Regions from separate parts of the Homo sapiens genome. Here region 2 is linked to region 1. Evidence: fine-mapped QTL for protein levels in blood plasma. A gene starts in region 1. The other region holds a variant in brackets. All regions are shown on one strand. Distances are between the middles of the regions.

Region 1 (10,533 bases):
AGTGAAACTCCAGGTCAAAGGACTTTGTTGGTCTAGTGTCAAATTAGCTTCCAAGGTGTTGATCTAATCCATGGGGCCACCAGCACTCAAGGATATAGGCGCACAGCAATGTCAGCCTCATGTTGTAATCCTTTTATTCATTTTTGCTCCTCTGGTCAGTACACGAAGGCCTGTAAAGATCCTTTCTTTTATTTTTGAGATGGAGTCTCACTCTGTCGCCCAGGCTGGAGTGCAATGGCACAATCTCAGCTCACTGCAACCTCCGCCCCCTGGGTTCAAGCCATTCTCCTGCCCCAGCCAAGTAGCTGGGATTACAGGCACATGCCATCATGCCCAGCTAATTTTTGTATTTTTAGTAGAGACAGGGTTTCACCATGTTGGCCAGGCTGGTCTCGAACTCCTGACCTCAGGTGATCCACCCACCTCTGCCTCCCAAAGTGCTGGGATTACAGGCATGAGACACCACACCCAGCCAGGCCTATGAAAATCTTTAAGTGTAACTTTTCATTAAGTGCCATAGATCCCTCCTCTTTATAACATAAAGTCCTGTAAACTGCATGCAGGTCAGTTTGCCATAGGAATAATTTGTCTTTGCTGGAACATGCTGGGTGCTTGGCAGATGAAGAGATTGGAAGTGAACCACTGAGATGACTGATGAGCGTCCTCAGCAGGCTGTGTTGCAGGGGGAAGAGTGCAGGTTGTTTATAAGGCCTGGGTCGTGCCCCTGGCCACCATTTCCTGGCTTTGTGACTCCAGCTTTACTTCTCCTTCCCAGGGCTCAGTTTTCCTCTCCTTGAAGGGGATGAGTGGAACCAGCTCTGGACGCTGAGCTGCCTGGGTGTAAAGGCTTCCTGTAATGGGCAGAAGAGTGGATAGGAGGGCAGCAGGGGAGCTGGACCAAAAGCATCATGTGATTTGCCGTGATCACAGAGGATTTTCTGGAAGTAGCTTGGGCACAATGTGTGCAAGGAGACAGAAGGGTCTCGTGGTGGGGAATAGGACATTCACACAGCCTCCTCCATGGCTTACCTCACACAGCAGTTGTTAATTAGCCAAGAATTTGACAAACAGGCATTAAAGGCCTTCTGAATGTGACACACGACACCCAGCTAGAAGAATATTGCCAAAAATCATTAAAACTACTCTAATCATAGTCTGAGTCAGACACATCCAGGTGGTGGAAGACTTTACAAAAAAAAAAGAAGTGAACCATTGCTTTCAATGACATTAAAGAAAATGAAAGGCAGGTGGGGAGCACTCCTAGATTAAAGGGGAGTCCAGAGATGAGATGTAAACCAAAAGGTATCTGAGACAGGTCTCCATCAACTTAGAAGCTTATTTTGCCAAGGTTAAGGACATAGAAAAAACCATGCAATCATAGAAACAGTCTGTGGTCTGTGCCTTTTTCCAAAGATAATTTTGAGGACTTCAATATTTAGGGTGGAAAAGCTGGCTGGCGGTGAAAGAAGGAGGGTGTGGTCGCATTACTGAATCCACATGGTGTAAGAGAAAGCAGGAGGTAGGGGAATAATCAATCACGTATTCATCTCACGCTCAGTAAATTGGCACCTTGAGAAAGATAAGGTGAATATGGCCGGGCGTGGTGGCTCACACCTGTAATCCCAGCACTTTGAAAGGCTGAGGTGGGAGGATCTCATGAGCCCAGGAACTTGAGACCAGCATGGACAACATGGCAAAACCCATCTCTACAAAAAAAACCACAAAAATTAGCTGGGCGCGGTGGTGGGTGCCTGTAGTCCCAGCTACACGGGAGGCTGAGGTGACAGAATGACTTGAGCCCGGGAGACAGAGGTCGCAGTGAGCCAAGATCGTGCCACTGCGCCCCAGCTTGGGAGACAAAGTATGATACTCTCTCAAAAAAAAATAAATAAGTAAAAATTTTTTTAAAGAAAGATAAGATGAACATAGAGTAGCTACCTACGGAGATACTTAACCTTTTCTCTGTAGCTGTCTGCTTAGGAACAAAAGGAAAGGCAGTTTCTTGCATGACTCAGCTTCCAGTTTTTTTTTTTTCCTTCTGTCACAGTGAATTGGGGTCCTGAGTTTTTGTTTCTCTTTCATAAAGACAACGCAGTGCAGTTCATGCTTGACCCCGGATGTTCTCCTGATCAGAAAGCAAAAACGCAATGAGAGATGTCATTGGGACAACAGAGGAAAACTGGAAATGGGCTTCCTATTAGACAACAGTGCATCTGTGTAAACTACACGGGTCTGATCCTGGTCTGTGGTTACGCAGGACAAAGTCCTTAAGAATAATCTATATAGGCTGGGCGTGGTGGCTCACACCTGTAATCCTAGCACTTTGGGAGGCCGAGGCAGGTGGATCACCTGAGGTCAAGAGCTCAGGACCAGCCTGGTCAACATGGTGAAACCCTGTCTCTACTATAAATACAAAAATTAGCCGGACGTGGTGGCAGGCGCCTGTAATCCCAGCTACTCGGGAGGCTGGGACAGGAGAATTGCTTGAACCTGGAGGGCGGAGGTTGCAGTGAGCAGAGATCACGACACTTCACTCCAGCTTGGGTGAGAGAGCAAAACTGCATCTAAAAAAAAAGAGAGAGAGAGGAAAAAAAAGAATGATATATGCTTTTTAAAAATTTTTTTATTTATTTATTTTTTGTGATGGAGCCTGGCTCTGTCACCCAGGCTGGAGTGCAGTGGTGTGATCTCGGCTCACTGCTGCAACCTCCACCACCAGCTTCAAGTGATTCTCCTGCCTCAGCCTCCCAAGTAGCTGGGATTACAGTTGTGTGTCACCATGTCCAGCTAATTTTTATATTTTTAGTAGAGATGGGGTTTCACCATGTTGGCCAGGCTGGTCTTGAACTCCTGACTTAAAGTGATCCTTCCAAAGTGCTGGGATTACAGGTGTGAGTCACTGTGCCCAGCCCCCTTAAGAATAATCTTAAGAAGGTTCTTGCTGAAGCACTTAGTGGTGAGAGTTACAATGTCTACTCCTTGTTTTTAAAATTTAAGAATATTTTAAAAGCATATGTTGTGTGTGTATAAACAGATACAATAAAATGTGAAGAGTGGGTGAATCCAGTGAAGGGGATACTTGTGTTCACTGTACTATCCTTGCAACTTTTCTGCCGGTTTGAAATTTTTCCGTCTTTTTTTTTGAGATGGAGTCTTACTCTGTTGCCCAGGCTGGAGTGCAGTGGTGCGATCTCGGCTCACTGCAACCTCTGCCTCTTGGGTTCAAGCGATTCTCCTGTCTCAGTCTCCGGAGTAGCTGGGACTACAGGTGGCTGCCACTACACCGGGCTAATTTTTGTATTTTTTTTTTAAGTAGAGATGGGGTTTCACCGTGTTGTCCAGGTTGGTTTCAATCTCCTGACTTCAATAGATCCACCCGCCTTGGCTTCCCAAAGTGCTAGGATGACTGGTATGAGTCACCGCTCCCAGCCTGAAATTTTTCAAAATGAAAACACCGCAGGTCAGGAGTTTGAGACCAGCCTGAACAACATAGTGAAACCCTGTCTCTATTGAAAATACAAAAATTAACCAGACATGGTGGTGTGCACCTGTAGTCCCAGTTACTCGGGAGGCTGAGGTGGGAGAGTTGCTTGAGTCCAGGAGATGGAGGCTGTAGTGACCTGCAGTGAGCTACAACTGCACCACTGTACTCCAGCATAGGTGAGAGCAAGACTCTGTTTCTAAAAAAAAAAAAAAATTACTGGGCATGTACTGTATGCCATGTAGGTGGTGGAGACATAGCAGGAGATCAGACAAACACTTCCCTGTCTGTGTGGCAAATATTAAACTTGCAATAAACTTGCAAAGACAAATAAAGATAAAATTTATAGAGATGTCAAAAATAAACATATAATTGCAAGTCACATTCATTTCTCTTTCTCTGCTATTCCTGCTCTCGCCTTCCCTCTTCTGCTTCTCCTCTCTCCGTCACAGACACCCACAACGTCCCTCTGCAGTCACTGACAGATACCCCAGGTTCCTTCCTGTCTTCCTCCCCGCCACCCCAGTGTGTTACAGCTGATTTGTACAGCCCTGGACAAGCCCATGGTTAAATAGCTAGGGATTTCATCAGCCTGGTTGGCAAACTGTAGGTAGCTTAAAATCAGACATGCTATGAGTATTTACACCAGAGAAATAGGCCAACACTACGAGGCAGGATTTGTGGGTATTGTTTTTCAGAAAACTTGGTTTTTCAGCACAACACTGCTCTCCCATCGGCTTCCAGCAAATAAATGTTGCATTTTTCAGATATATCCTAATTCTTTCATAGATATTCAGTCTCTACTCCACCTCTGGCCAAGCCTTTCCTGGTGGTAGGAAACTGGGGACTTGAGTCCTATGTTGTACTGTGAGGGTAGAGAATAGAAGAGAAAGCATGAGAGAAAAGCATGAAAAGAAGAATCAAAAGAAAGCAATATAAGAAGGAAAGAGAAAGAACAGAGAAGTGGGAAGACAGTGGAGGGTAGAAACTAGGACCGGAAGACATGGGGACAAGCTGATGCCCACTGCACAACGTCCTCACAGGTAGTTGGGCCATTTCCCCATCTGGGGTACAGAGGTGGCCAGGGAGCCCATGAGAAATGAGGAAACTGCCTTCCCAAACTACTGGAGAAAGAGGGTGGGGGTGGTGATCCACATAGCTGGGCTCAGGAGGAAAGAGGGCTGGGAGTCTGGACCGGGGGAACCTCGGGTCAAGATGCCACAGTTTCTAACTATGGAGGGCCTGGGGGCCTGGACTCCTGGGTCTGAGGGAGGAGGGCCTGGGGGTCTGGACTCCTGGGTCGGAGGGAGGAGGGCCTCGGGGCCTGGACTCCTGGGTCTGAGAGAGGGAGGCCTGGGGCCTGGACTCCTGGGTCTGAGGGAGGAGGGGCTGGGGGGCTGGACTCCTGGGTCTGAGGGAGGAGGCACTGGGGGCCTGGACTCCTGGGTCTGAGGGAGGAGGGACTGGGGGCCTGGACTCCTGGGTCTGAGGGCGGAGGGGCTGGGGGTCTGGACTCCTGGGTCTGAAGGAGGAGGGGCTGAGGGGCTGGGGGTCCTGGACCCTCCATCTGAGGGAGGAGGGGCTGGATGCCTGGACCCGAAGGTCTGAGGAAGAAAGGGGGTCCCTGATAGGCCACTGCGGCCATTGAGACTTGGGGTGGGGCCCAAGCCTCCATTTTGCAAGGCCCTCCCCTCCCCACCCTTTTCTGGGCTGGCTGCTTAAGGGCTGGTATAAAGGACTTGTTTCCTGCTGAAAAAGCAGAAAGAGATTACCAGCCACAGACGGGTCATGAGCGCGGTATTACTGCTGGCCCTCCTGGGGTTCATCCTCCCACTGCCAGGTGAGTGATGAGCCCAGCCTGGAGGAGATTCCCTGGAGGCCGGGCAAGGGAACCCTGCTGAGATGGATTTGCTCTTGCCACTCCAGGAGTGCAGGCGCTGCTCTGCCAGTTTGGGACAGTTCAGCATGTGTGGAAGGTGTCCGACCTGCCCCGGCAATGGACCCCTAAGAACACCAGCTGCGACAGCGGCTTGGGGTGCCAGGACACGTTGATGCTCATTGAGAGCGGTGAGAAGGCCCTGGCGTGCAGAGACCCCGCCCTGTCCCCTCAGTCCCTTGATCCCTGTGCAGGGACCCGGGAGCCACCCCTCCGGGGGATCGACTCCTAGGGTCCCGGTGATCCCCTTTCCAGCCTCTCAGCCTACGCCGTGTAGCAGCGTCTCCCTCCAGGACCCTGGAGGCCTGACCTCCATCCTCGCTTGCCTCCCTCTTTCGGTCCAGGACCCCAAGTGAGCCTGGTGCTCTCCAAGGGCTGCACGGAGGCCAAGGACCAGGAGCCCCGCGTCACTGAGCACCGGATGGGCCCCGGCCTCTCCCTGATCTCCTACACCTTCGTGTGCCGCCAGGAGGACTTCTGCAACAACCTCGTTAACTCCCTCCCGCTTTGGGCCCCACAGCCCCCAGCAGGTGCCTGCGGGAGGGTCGGGAGGAGAGGGAGGGGCTGCTAGAAGGGGATCCGCTGAGCACAGAGGGGCTGTTACGGAGTCCCTCCCACCCTCGCTCGCTATCCCGACCCTCGCTGGCTCCATCCCTCCCCTGACTGCTCCCTGACCATCGCCCCGCCCCGCTCCCTTTCCATCCCTCCCCACTCACTCCCGATCCCTCCCACCGACCTGCCACCCGGGAATCCCCGCACCCCTCCTCTTCTAAGAGCAAACAGGACGGATTTCTGATATGAAATCACCATTAACTGGGTTATCCTGCATTCTTTTTTTATTCTGTTGCGTTTGGTTCAAGAAGTTCTCCTGCAGGGTTTTTGCTATTTCCTCTTCCTAAGGGAGACTGAACTGTAACTTTCCACTTTCCTTGTCTGGTGTTATAAAGAGTCTAGGGAGATATTTTGCGCTTCTTTTATTGGAACAGCTTGTGAACACAGAAGTCTCCTGTTCTTGGAGGTTTAGTAGCGCTTGCAGGTGAAGGCACTGGCTCGTTCCAGGGCACCCCCTCATTCCCTTGACCAATGAGTCTGCTTCTGTGTCTCCCCTCGGAAGGCCAGACTTTGTTGAAAGGTTCAGACTTGACCATGTCTGAGTCTACATTTGGCCTCAGCAGGCCCCTCCTCCACCCTGCCCACCCCCCACCCCCACTTGCCACCCAAGACACCCCCCCTTTTCTTTTCTTTTTTTTTTTTTTTTTTTTTTTTTCTGAGAAAGCGTCTCGCTGTGTCGACCAGGCTGGAGTGCAGTGGCGCAATCTCGGCTCACTGCAACCTCCGACTCCCGGGTTCAAGCGATTCTCCTGCGTCAGCCTCCCACGTAGCAGGGACTAGAGGAGCCTGCCACCACGCCCGGCTAATTTTTGTATTTTTAGTAGAGACAGGGTTTCACTATGTTGCCCAGGCTGGTCTTGAACTCCTGACCTCGTGATCCACCTGCCTCAGCCTCCCAAAGTGCTGGGATTACAGGTGTGAGTCACCACACCCAGCCAAGACCACTTTCTGTACCCAGCCCTGGGTGCCTCTACCCAGACCTCCTGTTCATTCTCCCTTCCTCTTTTATGGATTACACTTCTTTATTTTCCCACATCCAGATCCCATGATGGGAGCTGCAGAAGGCCCCTTTGGGAAGGCTGAGCAGGTTGACTCTTGAGGCCAGCAAAAGTGGGGTGCAGAGAAGGTATCTGATCAAATCCAGTGCCCTCTCAGTGCCCCCTCACTCTGTCTGTCACTTTCCTAGACCCAGGATCCTTGAGGTGCCCAGTCTGCTTGTCTATGGAAGGCTGTCTGGAGGGGACAACAGAAGAGATCTGCCCCAAGGGGACCACACACTGTTATGATGGCCTCCTCAGGCTCAGGGGAGGTAAGCCTGGGACATCGGGGTCCCTGTGGGGACTGAACTGGAAGGTCTGGGGACTGAGATCTTAGGCTTTGGGGAGTGAGGTGAGCTGAGGCACGGCATGAGACCCAGAGGAGGGTGGGCCTGGCTTCCTGGAGCTATGCCTGCCTCTGAGGGTTGGGTGGTCCTGGAGGCAGCATCACTGACTCTCCCTCGCTCCCCCTTTCTGCAGGAGGCATCTTCTCCAATCTGAGAGTCCAGGGATGCATGCCCCAGCCAGTTTGCAACCTGCTCAATGGGACACAGGAAATTGGGCCCGTGGGTATGACTGAGAACTGCGATATGAAAGGTGAGTCCTGCCCCTAGGCTGTGCCCTGGACTGCAGCCTCGGGGCACGATGACACATGGGGCATCCAGAGCCATCACACCAAAGCCAGCAGGAGGAAGGTCAAGGGTGCAGGGTGGGTTGCTTGGCATGTGGCTTTAGGCAACAGTGAGTGCTGGGGCCCCTGCTGGCTCTCAAGCTGCTGAGAGTGACTGGTTGCTTCAATTTCTGTGTCTCCACACCCCTGGCCTTGGGTAACCCTAGGTCTCCCACTTCCCTAGGCCACCGTAGCCTCTCTCCCACCCGTATCAGCCCCCGCCCCGCTCATGGTGCTGGAGTGCCCCAGCAGCCTTGCCTGCACAGGAGAGAACATCAGAGAGAAAATCAAGGGGACTTTGGGTGTGACAGAGAAAGCAAGAGTTAAAGGAGGACACTGAGAGGGTCCCCACTTACCCATTTAGGTGCTGCCATGGAAGAGAGTGCCAGGGAATGTCTCCATAAGAAGGGCTCCAAAGCAACAGGAAGCCATGGTGGGGAGGTGGGGGTCTTATAGGAATCCCAGCTTCCCTCCTAGAAGCAAAGTCTTCCCTGCCCCTGCCTCAGTTTCCTTGTCTGCCCACATCACGCTAACCCTTAGAGCTTAGAAGAGAGAGTTGTGTGAGCTCTGCACACATTCCTCTGTGTATTTGGCTGTTTCTCCCTAGCTAGGCTGGGAGCCTGAGGCTAGGGGCTTGGTACCACTGGCACCAGGGTTTCCAGCCTTGGGTAGCTCAGGAGACGGCTCAGGAAGGGTACCAGGAGGTGTTTGCTCAAGTGAGGACATGCAGGGCTCACTTGAGCAAAGCTCCCTCATGAGTCAGACCCTGTTTCTACCTGAAGGGCCTCCAGGACTAGGAGGGGGAGGTGCTACAGACACAGATGGTCACAGCTTGAGGTGATCAGGGCTGTGGCAAACGGGGATGTGGGGCCTGGGGCAGCTCAGAGGAGGAAAATACTGATGTTGTTGGGGTAGAGAGTCAAGGAGGGCTTTACAGAGGAGGTGGCCTGTGAACCGTGTGTTAAAGATGACCTACAGCTTATTGGTAGAAGAGGAAGAGGACATTGGTGGCAGAGGGAACAGTGTGTAGCAGCTGCATAGGCCTGGAGGTGGGAGTGAGCCTGCTGTTTTCAAGAAGAGTCCCTCACTCCACCTGAGAAGGACTCATCAAGATGAGGGGGTACAGCTGGGATTGGGGGTGATTCGAAGTTTTCCAGGTGGACAAGGTGGGTGTGGGGTCGAAGAGGGAGCTGCTCCAAGCCAAAGGCACAGCAGGTGTGAGGCTGAGGAGGAAATGAACTGGCATGCCTTCAGAATGGATACTGGTGGGGGAGGAAGAGTTAAGTGGGGAACCTGGTGGTCGCTCAAGTACCTGAAAACCCAGGCTGAGGGGTGGACCCTCTCCTGAAGGCAGGGGAGCCATGGAAGATTGTGGAGCAGGGAGGGCAGGGTCTGAGCCATTTATCTTTCCTTTTGACTGATGCTGCTGTTAAGGATCTGGCCCTGGTCTCTGGGACCAGATGACACTGATAACCCAGAAGGTATTTCAGAAACAAATCAGACGCAACACATGCCACACACACAGCCCACAATAAGCACAGCAGACACGAATGCGTCACACCATGACACATACACACCACACATCACATACCACACACACACTCCCCCATACCCCTGACATACCACCTATGGAACACAAATCACACACAGAGCACACAATATGCACAACACACACAAATGCATCACACGAGTGCACAATTACTACGTGTACATGTAGTGTGTATGCCACATACTACACGTCAGGTACCACACACACTCTCCCTCTCAACATATCAGACATGCAATACATACCACACACAACACACAATACACACAACACATCTGGCATGCCACACACACCACATGCAAGCAAAACACAGATACACAGAACACACACCACACCAAACACACAAAACAAACACATACCACATATATCACACACAGTATGTCTACACATGCACGCACCACACAAACATACCATGAACACACCACACACCCCATACAACCACACCCCCCACATGTATACTACGCACTCACACACAGCACACATACCTGCACACATCACGCATGTGCACACACTACACAAACGCACCACATAAAACACAGCGACTATGCACCAATCAGTGCTGTTCATAGAGATTCATCTGCTTTCAACACTGGAGCCAGATCTTGCAGGCTGTTTTGCCTCCCTGGTGAAGTGCAGTTCAGCAGTTTAGCAGACAGTGAGCATCACAAGACCAGGCATCAGAAACTGGGGGAACAACAAGACGTTGGGGACCAAGTGCAGGAGAGAAGAGGCTTCAGGGTGATGGAACCGCTTATAAGAAGCCGCAGCAGTGGGAGGGCTGGGTGCAAGGATGCAGGTTACTAAAAGGGGCCATGGCAGCAGCCCCTTGTGAAGAACCAAGGGGCCCGGGCAGATAAGGCCCTGGCTGCCCCTAGAGGAGCTGGGCAGCGGTCCCAGTGAGAGAGCAGGGAAGAGCCCACGTCTGAATCAGGGACACGTGGGTCCCAGGCCCAGCTCTGCCGCCGAAACAGCTTTCCAGCCTCAGCTTCACACGAGGATCAAAAGTCTCCATATCTCATGGAGCCTCTTTCCCTGGATTTGGGGAAGAGGAGGGGATGGTTGCAGACATGGGACGGAAGCAGATGCAAAGACCATGATGTGGGTGAGTGCCTGCCAGAAACACCTGTGCGGAGCAGAGTGATGGAGGGAGCAGGGAGGCGGCCGCGTCTTATCAGGCCTCCCGGGCCATTGGAAGGGCTTAGAATTTTATTCTCCAGAATGGGGACCTCCTGGAGTCTTCGGAGCAGAGGA
Region 2 (10,533 bases), 31 kb before region 1:
CTCAATAAATTAAAGAATTACTACTTGATCCAGCAATTCTACTTCTGGATTCTAGGTTGTGAATGCGTTGATTATCTTTAGTGAACTATAGAAAGTTTTCTTTATCTGGTGAAAATACACTGTAACATAATAACTTAGTAGATAACATGAGCCCTCTTGCATGGGAGAGCTTTTATACAACCAGAACCAGAAAATATGCATTGAAAATAACAATTGAATGAAATCTCATTATAAAATGTTTAAATGGACCAGCAGGTGACCAAGTGTACCTGAAGCTTTGATTGTTTTCCCAGGAATATGGGGCCAAACATTGGTTATAAATTCTTTTAACAATTTATAAGTCACCACACCAATATATTCCATTTGAATATTTTTATCTTTTCCATGATGAGTCATGGAATGCAGAACTTTTAATAATAAAAGCTTTAAGGACTTAGGAAGGACAAGGTGGCCATCCTGGTTCTCCATGAGTCCATGCTTAATTAATATTAGACTCATATCCTCTTGAATCATAGTTTTTCTTCAAATTATGTGCATAGCACTGATAACTGATGGGTTATCATAGGTAATTTGACTTAGACCATGACGTTCATTCAAATTGTATATCTAAGTAATTTTAATGTCAGCTGATGTAGCATGAGTGCTGATTGGTTAGGTAGGAGATGAAATCATGGGAAGTTGAAGCTGTCCTTTTTTGCTGAGTCAGTTCCTGAGTAGAGGTCACAAGATCAAATGACCCATTTTATCGATCTGGGTGGGGCCAGCTCATCCATCCATCAAGTGCAGGGTCTGCCAAATAGCTCAGACAGATCTCAGGAGCAGTTTAGAGAGGGTCAGAATCTTGTAGCCTCCAGCTGCATGACTCTTAAACCGTAATTTCTAATCTTGTGGCTAATTTGTTAGTCCCACAAAGGCAGTCTTGTCCCCAGGCAAGAAGGAGGTTCGTTTTGGGAAAGGGCTGTTATCGTCTTTGTTTTAAACTGTAAACTAAATTCCTATTAAAGTTAGTTCAGCCTATGCCCAGGACCGAACAAGGACAGCTTGGAGGTTAGAAGCAAGACGGTGTTCATTAGGTTAGGTTAGATCTCTTTCACTGTCTCAGTCATAATTTTGCCAAGATAGTTTGAGGAGAATCAAATTTTAAAGAAAGACACATAATAGTGTCACGGCTAGCCTTAAATATTCTCTTGACTAACTTACAGAGCAAAAATCTAGCCTTAAACAAAGTTAAGTTTTTTGTAATCTCAAATGACTTGCTTTAGATCTCCTGAGGCAATAAGGATTAAAGCCACTTCACCATGTCATCCAGTAGTTAAAATTCCACACTTTCACTGTTGCAGCCTGGATTCAATTACAAGTCAGAGAATGAACCGCTTTTGTTACAGGAAAAAGGTCCCAATCCATGCCCAAAGAGAGGATTCTTGGATCTTGCACGAGAAAGAATTCAGGGCAAGTCTGCAGCGCAAAGTAAAAGCAAGTTTATTAAGAAAGTAAAGTAGTGAAAGTACAGCTACTCCATAGTCACAGTAGGATGTTCTTGAAAGTAAGAGGAGGCACACACCCACCCTAGGTACAGTGCTCATATATATGGGGAGATGTACCCTGCTACAAAGGTTTGTGATAAGGATTAATTTTCTTAATTGTGATATTTTGCAAGAATCTAAGTTATTATCTTTAAAGCAAAATTAGGAATCACTTTGTTTTCCAGATATTGGGATATCTGGACACTCCCAAGTCTGGGTCTGTTTAGTAAATATTATTGATTTGTTCCCTTAACCATAAACATCTAGAGGCTAGGAATGCCTCACTTTCTGGAAATGCAGCCCAACAAGTCCCAGCCTCATTTTCCCAGCCCTCACTCAAGATGGAGTCACTCTACTTCAAATGCCTCTGCCACTTTTGTTTTGATATTTGTGTGATTTTTGAGTTTTTGTGGTACTCATTTACATCTTTGGAGATGTCTCATGCATCCTTGGCTAAGTCACAATTATGGTTAGTGCTTATCAGTTTCAGCTGGGAGGATACTTTTGGTTAAAAAAAAATTCAAAAGCCAGAAATATCAGCTGTTTGTCCTAGCTAAAATCTGATAATAAAAAATCTGAAAGTATTACAGTGGGTAGCTAGTCAGACATCAGCAGGACAGGAGGGAGCCTCCTTCCCCCACACACCAGGAATGTCATGACCATCAGGTGATTGTCAGGTGGTCGTTAACTGTCTCTCTAAAATAATAATGGGTTGTAGCTAGCACCAGGGAAAGGCAGTCTCCCAATAGACAGGAAACACCTGAAACAGTTGATCAGCTCCTTCCTGATAAGTTCTCAGAAGTTGGGTGAGTGGGCTAAAACATGTGCATTAAGAGGCAAAATGGTGGAGTTTAACTGGTTTGTGACCTCCCAGGGACATTTGACTGGAAAGAGAAGAACACCTCAAGTGAGCATGCATACAACTCCAGTAAATACACTGCGCATGTTCACCCCACCCCAAGTGCTAGCAGGCCACTGCACATGCAGACAGCCCACTCCAAAGGGAAAATAAGGGGAGAGGAGATGCAGACCCCAGAATTATGCCAACATACAAAAGCCTAAGTCAGAGGTCAAGCAATGCACTTGATCTCTTGTTGCCTGCTTGGCTTTTTTATTTTTTTATTTTTATTTATTTATTTTTTTGCAACAGAGTCTTGCTCTGTCACCCAGGCTAGAGTGCAGTGGCATGATCTCAGATCACTGCAACCTTCGCCTCCCAGGTTCAAATGATCCTCCCGCCTCAGCCTCCCTAGTAGCTGGGACTACAGGCACATGCTACCACACCCAGCTAATTTTTGTATTTTTGGTAGAGACGAAATTTCACCATGTTGGCCAGGTTGGTCTCAAACTCCTGACCTCAGGTGATCTACCCATCTCGGCCTCCCAAAGTGCTAGGATTACAAGTGTGAGTCACTGTATCCAGCCTGCTTGACTCTCTTTTAATTGTACTTTACTTCCTTTAATTCCTGCCTTAAAGCTTTTAAATAAACTTTTACTCCTGCTCTAACACTTACCTCAGTCCCTTCTTCTGCCTTATGCCTCTTAGTCAAATTACTTCTTCTAAAGAGGCAAGAATTGAGGTTGCTGAAGACGTCTACAGATTCACTGCTGCTAACATGCTTTGGTGTCATTTCTCAGCTATGTTTGGCAGCTAAGAGAAGGATTTCCCAAAACAGCTCTGTGATTAAGAGTCAGCTTAATTAAAAACTGGTATTTAAGCCATATATTTATTAATGGTATTTAAGCCATATAATTATTAATATTTATAATATTAAGCCATGTATATATTAAAATAATATATATATAAAATATTATATATATATAGAATATGTATATACACAGAATATATAAATTCATATTGGATATATATTGAGAAAGGACTTGAATGTATATTGAAGGCTTTTCTGCTTTTCTCTTTTGTATCTTTTTTTTTTTTTGAGACAGGCTGTCACTCTGTCACCCAGGCTTAAGTGCAGTGGCACAATCTCAGCTCGCTGCAACCTCCACCTCCTGGGTTCAAGGGATTCTTGGGCCTCAGCCTCTTGAGCAGCTGAGATTACAGGCACGTGCCACCACACCTGACTGATTTTTGTATTTTTACTAGAGACTGGGTTTCGCCATGTTGCTGGTCTTGAACTCCTGGCCTTGAGTAATCTGCCCGCCTCAGTCTCCCAAAGTGCTGCCATTACAGATGTGAGCCACTGCCTCTGGCCATCTCTTTTGTATCTTTGAAAGATTTTTTTTCAGTTGACTGAAATCTTTTTAAATCATGTGCTTAGTCTGTCTGGTTTTTTTCTTAAAAATTCTTTTTCTGCTTATTTCTCTTTCCATCCTTCCTCTTGCTATTCTTGATGCCACATGAGGGAACCTAAAGAATTTCTGACAGCCTGGAACCCCTTAAGGAAAACAGAAAAGATGCCACAGACTTCCCTATTTAGGAGAAACCACTGTTTTTCCTCATGGAACCCCAAGAGTTGTAAGTAAATGGATTCCTCTCAGGTCTAAAACTCTGCTCTCTTTTCCATTTTCCCTGACCTCTTTGGCTTTTGGGGGCATCAGAGATTACTTTGCACTGTAAAAATGCTTGACCTTATATGTGTGATGGCTGCTGGGTCACTGGTAAGAGCTTTGGTTTTGGAGGTGACTAACAGCGCTCGCAATAAATGATTATTACTTCAGAATGCTACTCATTTCTTTGCAAGTTTAGATAAGAAATACACAGTTTAAATAATTAGAAAAATGCCCTTATAGCAAAGTACACTGTGGAAGTGTTGCATAGTATGGTTCCATTGGCATTTTCCTCTTCTCAGGGACCTGGGATTCAGTGAAATCCTTGATTTATAAAGGTCTGGATGCTGTCCCTTG[C/T]AACTGGGTCTTCTTTTTATGTATTTAAATTATTAGGATCTAAAAGTTGCAAGACTTCGTTGGTCCTCTTCCTTAATGGGCTCTGTCCTGAGCTCAGTGGTCCAGTTGGAAAACAGAGACCAAATTAAAAGCTGCCTATCTAAATAAAATTGGTCTCCTTATAAAATCCTATGGTAAATTTCTGTCATTTTTGTGTTACCTTGGCATCTATTTTTAATCTTCCTTGAACACACACAAATTCCTTCTTGTAAAAGCTTTAGTTCTCTTTCTCTCTGTGCTTTGAGATGTAAATTTGCTACCAATTTTCTCTAAAACTCAATAAAGTCTGGCTTAATTAAATGTTAACCTCTTCCATTTACAAAGGCACAAATTTAATCCAACTGTCTTTTTTAAATACTGAATTTGATCGGTCCTATGCTGAAATCAAAACTCTAAACTCTTTCTGCCTCCCTCTATCTTTATGTGCACATGTGTATGTTATATGCTGTATCACATATATGTCTATGTCCATACATATGATTATATGTTGTTTACATACATGGTATCAAATTAATGTAAAAATAAGTACTCATAAATTAAGTAAATAATCCCAAATGCTTTTCAATACATGTGATTTTAGTAATCTTTGGTAAATAAAGATAGTTTAAAAATTATTGGTAAAATGAAGTAGAAATGTCTTCAGATTTAATTTAGACATTTGTGCCTGGGTCTGTTGGCAGACATTTTTATATTGTATTTACTAGATGTTTTAGGGTCATCATATGGTTGCTTCTGTATATATACATTTTCTTAATTTTTCTGTGACCTTATATCTTTAGATTTGAGCCTTTAGATTCTGAGTTCTAGATGAGCGACCATAGCAAGAACTGGGGACAAAACTCATCCCATCCCACAGCTGTGCCTTTTGGCCATGCTGGAAGAGATTAGATTCTCCAGGTATAATCTTCATAGCTTTGCTGTTTATCTTGGGCTTTACACCTGGTAACTAGTTAGAATTGCTTACTTCCTGTTTTTTCTCTCCTGAAAATAATGCTGTATTTGTTTGTTCTCACATTGCTACTGAGAAATACCTGAGACTGGGTAATTTATAAAGAAAAGAGGTTGAATTGGCTCATGGTTTGGCATGACTCTCACATTTGCTCAGCTTTTGAGGAGGCCTCGGGAAACTTACAATCATTGTGGAAGGCCAAGGCAGAACAAGGCATCTCACAGGTGAGAGCAGGAGGAAGACAGCAAGGGTTACACACTCTTAACCAGATCACCTGAGAACTCACTGTCACTAGGAAAGCACCAAGAGGAATGGTGTTAAACCATGAGAAACCATCCCCATAATCCAATCACCTTCAACCAGGCTCCACCTACAACTTTGGAGATTACAACTTGACATGAGATTTGAGTGGGAATATAAATCCAAAACATATCATTCTTTCCCTGGTTTCTCTCAAATCTCATGTCTTTCTTTTCATACGTGTCCGTGTGAAGAGACCACCAAACAGGCTTTGTGTGAGCAACATGGTTGTTTATTTCACCTGGGTGCAGGTGGGCTGAGTCCGAAAAGAGAGTCAGCAAAGGGAGATAGGGATGGGGCCATTTTATAGGATTTGGGAAGGTAATGGAAAATTACAGTCAAAGGGGGTTGTTCTCTGGTGGGCAGGGGCGGGGGTCACAAGGTGCTCAGTGGGGGAGCTTCTGAGCCAGGAGAAGGAAATTCACAGGGTTAATCACTCAGTTAAGGTGGGGCAGGAACAAATCACAATGGTGGAATGTCATCAGTTAAGGCGGGGCAGGGCCTTTTCACTTCTTTTGTGATTCTTCAGTAACTTCAGGCCATCTGGGCGTATACGTGCAAGTCACAGGGGATGCGATGGCTTGGCTTGGGCTCAGAGGACTGACATTCCTGCCTTCTTATATTAATAAGAAAAATAAAACAAAATAGTGTTGAAGTGTTGGGGTGGCGAAAATTTTTGGGGGGTGGTATGGAGAGAGAATGGGCGATGTTTCTCAGGGCTGCTTCAAGCGGGATTAGGGGCGGGTGGGAACCTAGAGTGGGAGAGATTAAGCTGAAAGGAGATCTTGTGGTAAGGGGTGATATTGTGGGGTTGTTAGAAGAAACATTTGTCATATAGTATGATTGGTGATGGCCTGGATACAGTTTTGTGTGAATTGAAAAACTAAATGGAATAAGAAGGAGAAAAACAGGTATAAAAGGTCTAAGAATTGGGAGGACCTAGGACATCTGATTAGAGAGTGCCTAAGGAGATTCAGCATAGTCCTGCCAGCAAAGATTATTTATTTACTTCAAGAGTTAAGAGTGGCAGTTTGGGGATAGCACGAGGAGATATCAGCTGTGATGGCTTGGAGAAACAGTGTAAACTGGCAGTGTGAACAAGAGCAGGGCATGTGTGAGTAGTTGAGAATGGAGAATAGGAATATGACTAGACAGAAAATAGTAGGGATGACAAGTTTTCTTGGGGGCACAGTCTAAGTTGGTCCAGTGTCTGGAATGAGACTGGGGCCTAATAAAAAGGAGCATCTATACAGGAGCTTAAATGGGCTGTACCTTGTAGCATTCTGAGGACAGGCCTGAATTCTGAGAAGTGAAAGTGGTAAAAGTATTGTCCAGTCCTTTTTAAGTTGGTGGCTGAGCTTGGTGAGGTGTGTTTTTAAAAGACCTTTAGTCCGTTCTACTTTTCTTGAAGACGGAGGACCGTAAGGGATATAAAGGTTTCACTGAATACTAAGAGCCTGAAAAACTAATTGGCTGATTTGACTAATAAAGGCTGGTCTGCTATCAGACTGTATAGAGGTGGGAAGGCTAAACTGAGGAATTATGTCTGACAGAAGGGAAGAAATGACTGTGGTGGCCTTCTCAGACCCTGTAGGAAAGGCCTTTACTTATTCAGTGAAAGTGTCTATTTAGACTAAGAGGTATTTTAGTTTCCTGACTCGGGCATGTTGAGTAAAGCTAATTTGCCAGTCCTGGGTGGGGGCAAATTCTCGAGCTTGATGTGTAGGGAAGGGAGGGGGCCTGAATAATCCCTGAGGAGTAGTAGAATAGCAGATGGAACACTGAGAAGTTATTTTCTTGAGGATAGATTTCCACGATGGAAAGGAAATGAGAGGTTCTGAGAGGCAGGCTAGTGGCTTGTACTATAGCATAGCCTGCATTTGCTGGTATGTGGCGATTAGGCCTGGTGGAACTGCCATCAATAAATCAAGCGTGATCAGGGTGAGGAATAGGAAAGAAGGAAATACAGGGAAATGGGGTGAATAGCAGGTGGATCAGAGAGATACAGTCATGGGGGTCAGGTGTGGTATCAGGAATAATGTGGGAGGCCAGATTGAAGTCCGGGCCAGGAACAGTGGTAATTGTGGGACTTAACAAAGAGTGAGTACAGCTGAAGGAGCCGGGGAGCAGAAAGTGTATGCGTCAGGTATGAGGAAGAAAATAGATTTTGGAAGTTGAGAAATGTAGAGAGTGAGTTGAGCATAGTTTGTGATTTTCAGGGCCTCTAAAAGTATTAAAGCAGCGGCAGCCGCTGCACACAGACATGAGGGCTAGGCTAAAACAGTAAGGTCAAGTTGTTTGGACAGAAAGGCTACAGGGTGCGGTCCTGGCTCTTGTGTAAGAATTCTGACCACACTAACCATGCCTAGGAAGGAAAGGAGTTGTTGTTTTGTAAGGGATTGAGGTTTGGGAGATTAATCAGACATGATCAGCAGGGAAAGCACGTGTGTTTTTGTGAGAATTATACCGAGATAGGTAACAGATGAGGATGAAATTTGGGCTTGACTGAGGTAATGGGGGCTGTCTGTGAAGCCTTGCGGCAGGACAGCCCAGGTAATTTGCTGAGCCTGATGGGTGTCAGGGTCAGTCTAAGTGAAAGCAAAGAGAGGCGGGGACGAGGGGTGCAGGGGAACAGTGAAAAAAGCATCTTTACGATCAAGCACGGAATAGTGAGTTGTGGAGGAAGGTATTGAGGACAAAAGAGTGTTCGGGTTGGGCACCACAAGGGGGATAGGCAAAACAATTTGGTTGATAAGGCACAGATCCTGAACTAACTTGTAAGTCTTGTCTGGTTTTAGGACAGGTAAAATGGGGGAATTGTAAGGAGAGTTTATAGGCTTTAAAAGGCCATGCTGTAGCAGGCGAGTGATAACAGGCTTTAATCCTTTTAAAGCGTGCTGTGGGATGGGATATTGGCGTTGAGTGGGGTAAGGGTGATTAGGTTTTAATGAGATGGTAAGGGGTGCATGATCAGTCGCCAAGGAGGGAGTAGAGGTGTCTTATACTTGTGGGTTAAGGTGGGGGGATACAAGAGGAGGACGCAAAGGAGGCTTTGGATTGGGAAGAAGGGCGGCAATGAGATATAGCTGTAGTCCAGGAATAGTCAGGGAAGCAGATAATTTACTTAAAGTGCCTCAGCCTAATAAGGGAACTGGGCAGGTGGGGATAACTAAAAAGGAGTGCTTAAAAGAGTAGTGTCTAAGTTGGCGCCAGAGTTGGGGAGTTTTAAGAGGTTTAGAAGCCTGGCTGTCAATACCCACAACAGTTATGGAGGCAAGGGAAACAGGCCCTTGAAAAGAAGGTAATGTGGAGTGGGTAGCCTCCGTATTGATTAAGAAGGGGATGGACTTACCCTCCACCGTGAGAGTTACCTAAAGCTCGGCGTCCGTGATGGTCTACGGGGCTTCTGAGGTGATCAGGCAGCGTCAGTCTTCAGCCGGTAAGCCAAGAAGGAGTCAGTCAGAGAGCCTTGGGCCCAGAGTTCCTTGGGCTCTGGGAGTGGCTGCCAGGTGAGTTGAACAGTCCGATTTTCAGTGGGGTCCCACACAGATGGGACGCGGCTTAGGAGGAATCCCAGGCTGCGGGCATTCCTTGGCCCAGTGGCCAGATTTCCGGCACGTGTAGCAAGCGCCTGGGGGAGGAGGTTCTGGAGGAACGCCTGGTTGCTATGGTTCAGGCGTTTGGAAGTTCTTGTGTGCTGGAGATGTGGCTGGGGTTTGTCTCACAGTGGAGGCAAGGAATTGCAACTTTTTTCTGTTATTGCACACCTTGAAGGTGAGGTTAATTAAGTCCTGTTGTGGGGTTTGAGGGCCAGATTCCAATTTCTGGAGTTTTATTTAATGTCGGGAGCAGATTGGGTAATAAAATGTATATTGAGAATAAGATGGCCTTTTGACCTTTTAGGGTCTAGGGCTATAAAGCGTCTCAGGGTTGCTGTCAAACGAGCCATGAACTGGGCTGGATTTTTATACTTGATGAAAAAGAGCCTAAACGCTATCTGATTTGGGATAAAGAAAAAGGAGCATTAACCTTGACTATGCCTTTAGCTCCAGCCACCTTTTTAAGAGTAAATTGCTAGGCAGGTGGGGAAGGGCTAGTCACGGAACGAAACTGTAAGCCGGACCAGGTGTGAGGAGGGGAGGCAATAAAAAGATTACAGGGTGGAGGAGCGGAGGCTGAGGAAGAATTGGGACCTAGCTTGGCCTGGCAAGGAGGGGAGAGGTCAGATGGGTCTGTAGAAAAGGAAGATTAGAAAGACTCAGCGACGCTTGGGGTTGGGACTGAGGGGACAGGCGGGAGATTTGGGACGAGTTGCACTGGGCACAGAGACTAGGAAGGGACTGATGTGTAAAAGAATGCCTGGACGTCAGGCACCTCAGACCATTTGCCCATTTTACGACAAGAATTATTTAGATCTTATAGGATGGAAAAATTGAAAGTGCCGTTTTCTGGCTATTTGGAACTACTGTCCAGTTTGTATTGGGGTCAAGCGGCATTGCAGAAGAAAATGAGATGCTTAGATTTTAGGTCAGGTGAGAATTGAAGAGGTTTTAAGTTCTTAAGAATACAGGCTAAGGAAGAAGAAGGAGGAATGGAAGGTGGAAGCTTGCCCATAGTGAAGGAGGCAAGCCCAGAGAAAAGAGTAGAGACATGGAGAAGGGGTGGGGGTTTCTTGCCCACCAGAAAAGCAGAGAAAGGGTCGGAGCATGGAAATAAGGGATTGGGGTGCAGACATAAGAGGTTGGGGCATGGAAGTAAGGGATTGGGGCACAGAGATAACAGGTTGGGGCGCGGAAATAAGCAATTGGGGCACAGAGATAAGAGGTTGGGGCATGGAAATAAGCGATTGGGGCGCAG

Alleles and levels. Positions count from the first base shown, and alleles are read on the strand shown. Strength reflects both the effect of a copy and how common the allele is.
With allele T in place of C in region 2, the plasma level of the protein whose gene starts at base 5,241 in region 1 is higher (strong association).

What was found. PIP is the chance, under the fine-mapping model, that this variant and not a neighbour inherited with it causes the effect. The UK Biobank Pharma Proteomics Project read protein levels with antibody pairs (Olink). The fine-mapping took linkage between variants from a reference panel, not from the people measured, so its PIPs are less certain.
Region 2: its variant is fine-mapped to the plasma level of the CD177 protein (UK Biobank, PIP above 0.99).

What each region holds. Positions count from the first base shown.
Region 1 is chr19:43,348,446-43,358,978 of GRCh38, forward strand. It overlaps CD177 (CD177 molecule), which reads left to right and starts at 5,241. Exons shown (of 9, transcript NM_020406.4): 1 at 5,241-5,321; 2 at 5,408-5,548; 3 at 5,762-5,947; 4 at 7,216-7,338; 5 at 7,547-7,663. The coding sequence starts at 5,270. PRG1 (p53-responsive gene 1) reads left to right here and starts at 611. Exons shown (of 1, transcript NR_026881.1): 1 at 611-1,103.
Region 2 is chr19:43,317,663-43,328,195 of GRCh38, forward strand. No RefSeq gene overlaps it. Among named protein-coding and RNA genes, the nearest start is that of LINC03078, 8.6 kb to the right of the region's middle. The variant C/T (reference allele first, on the strand shown) is at 4,389.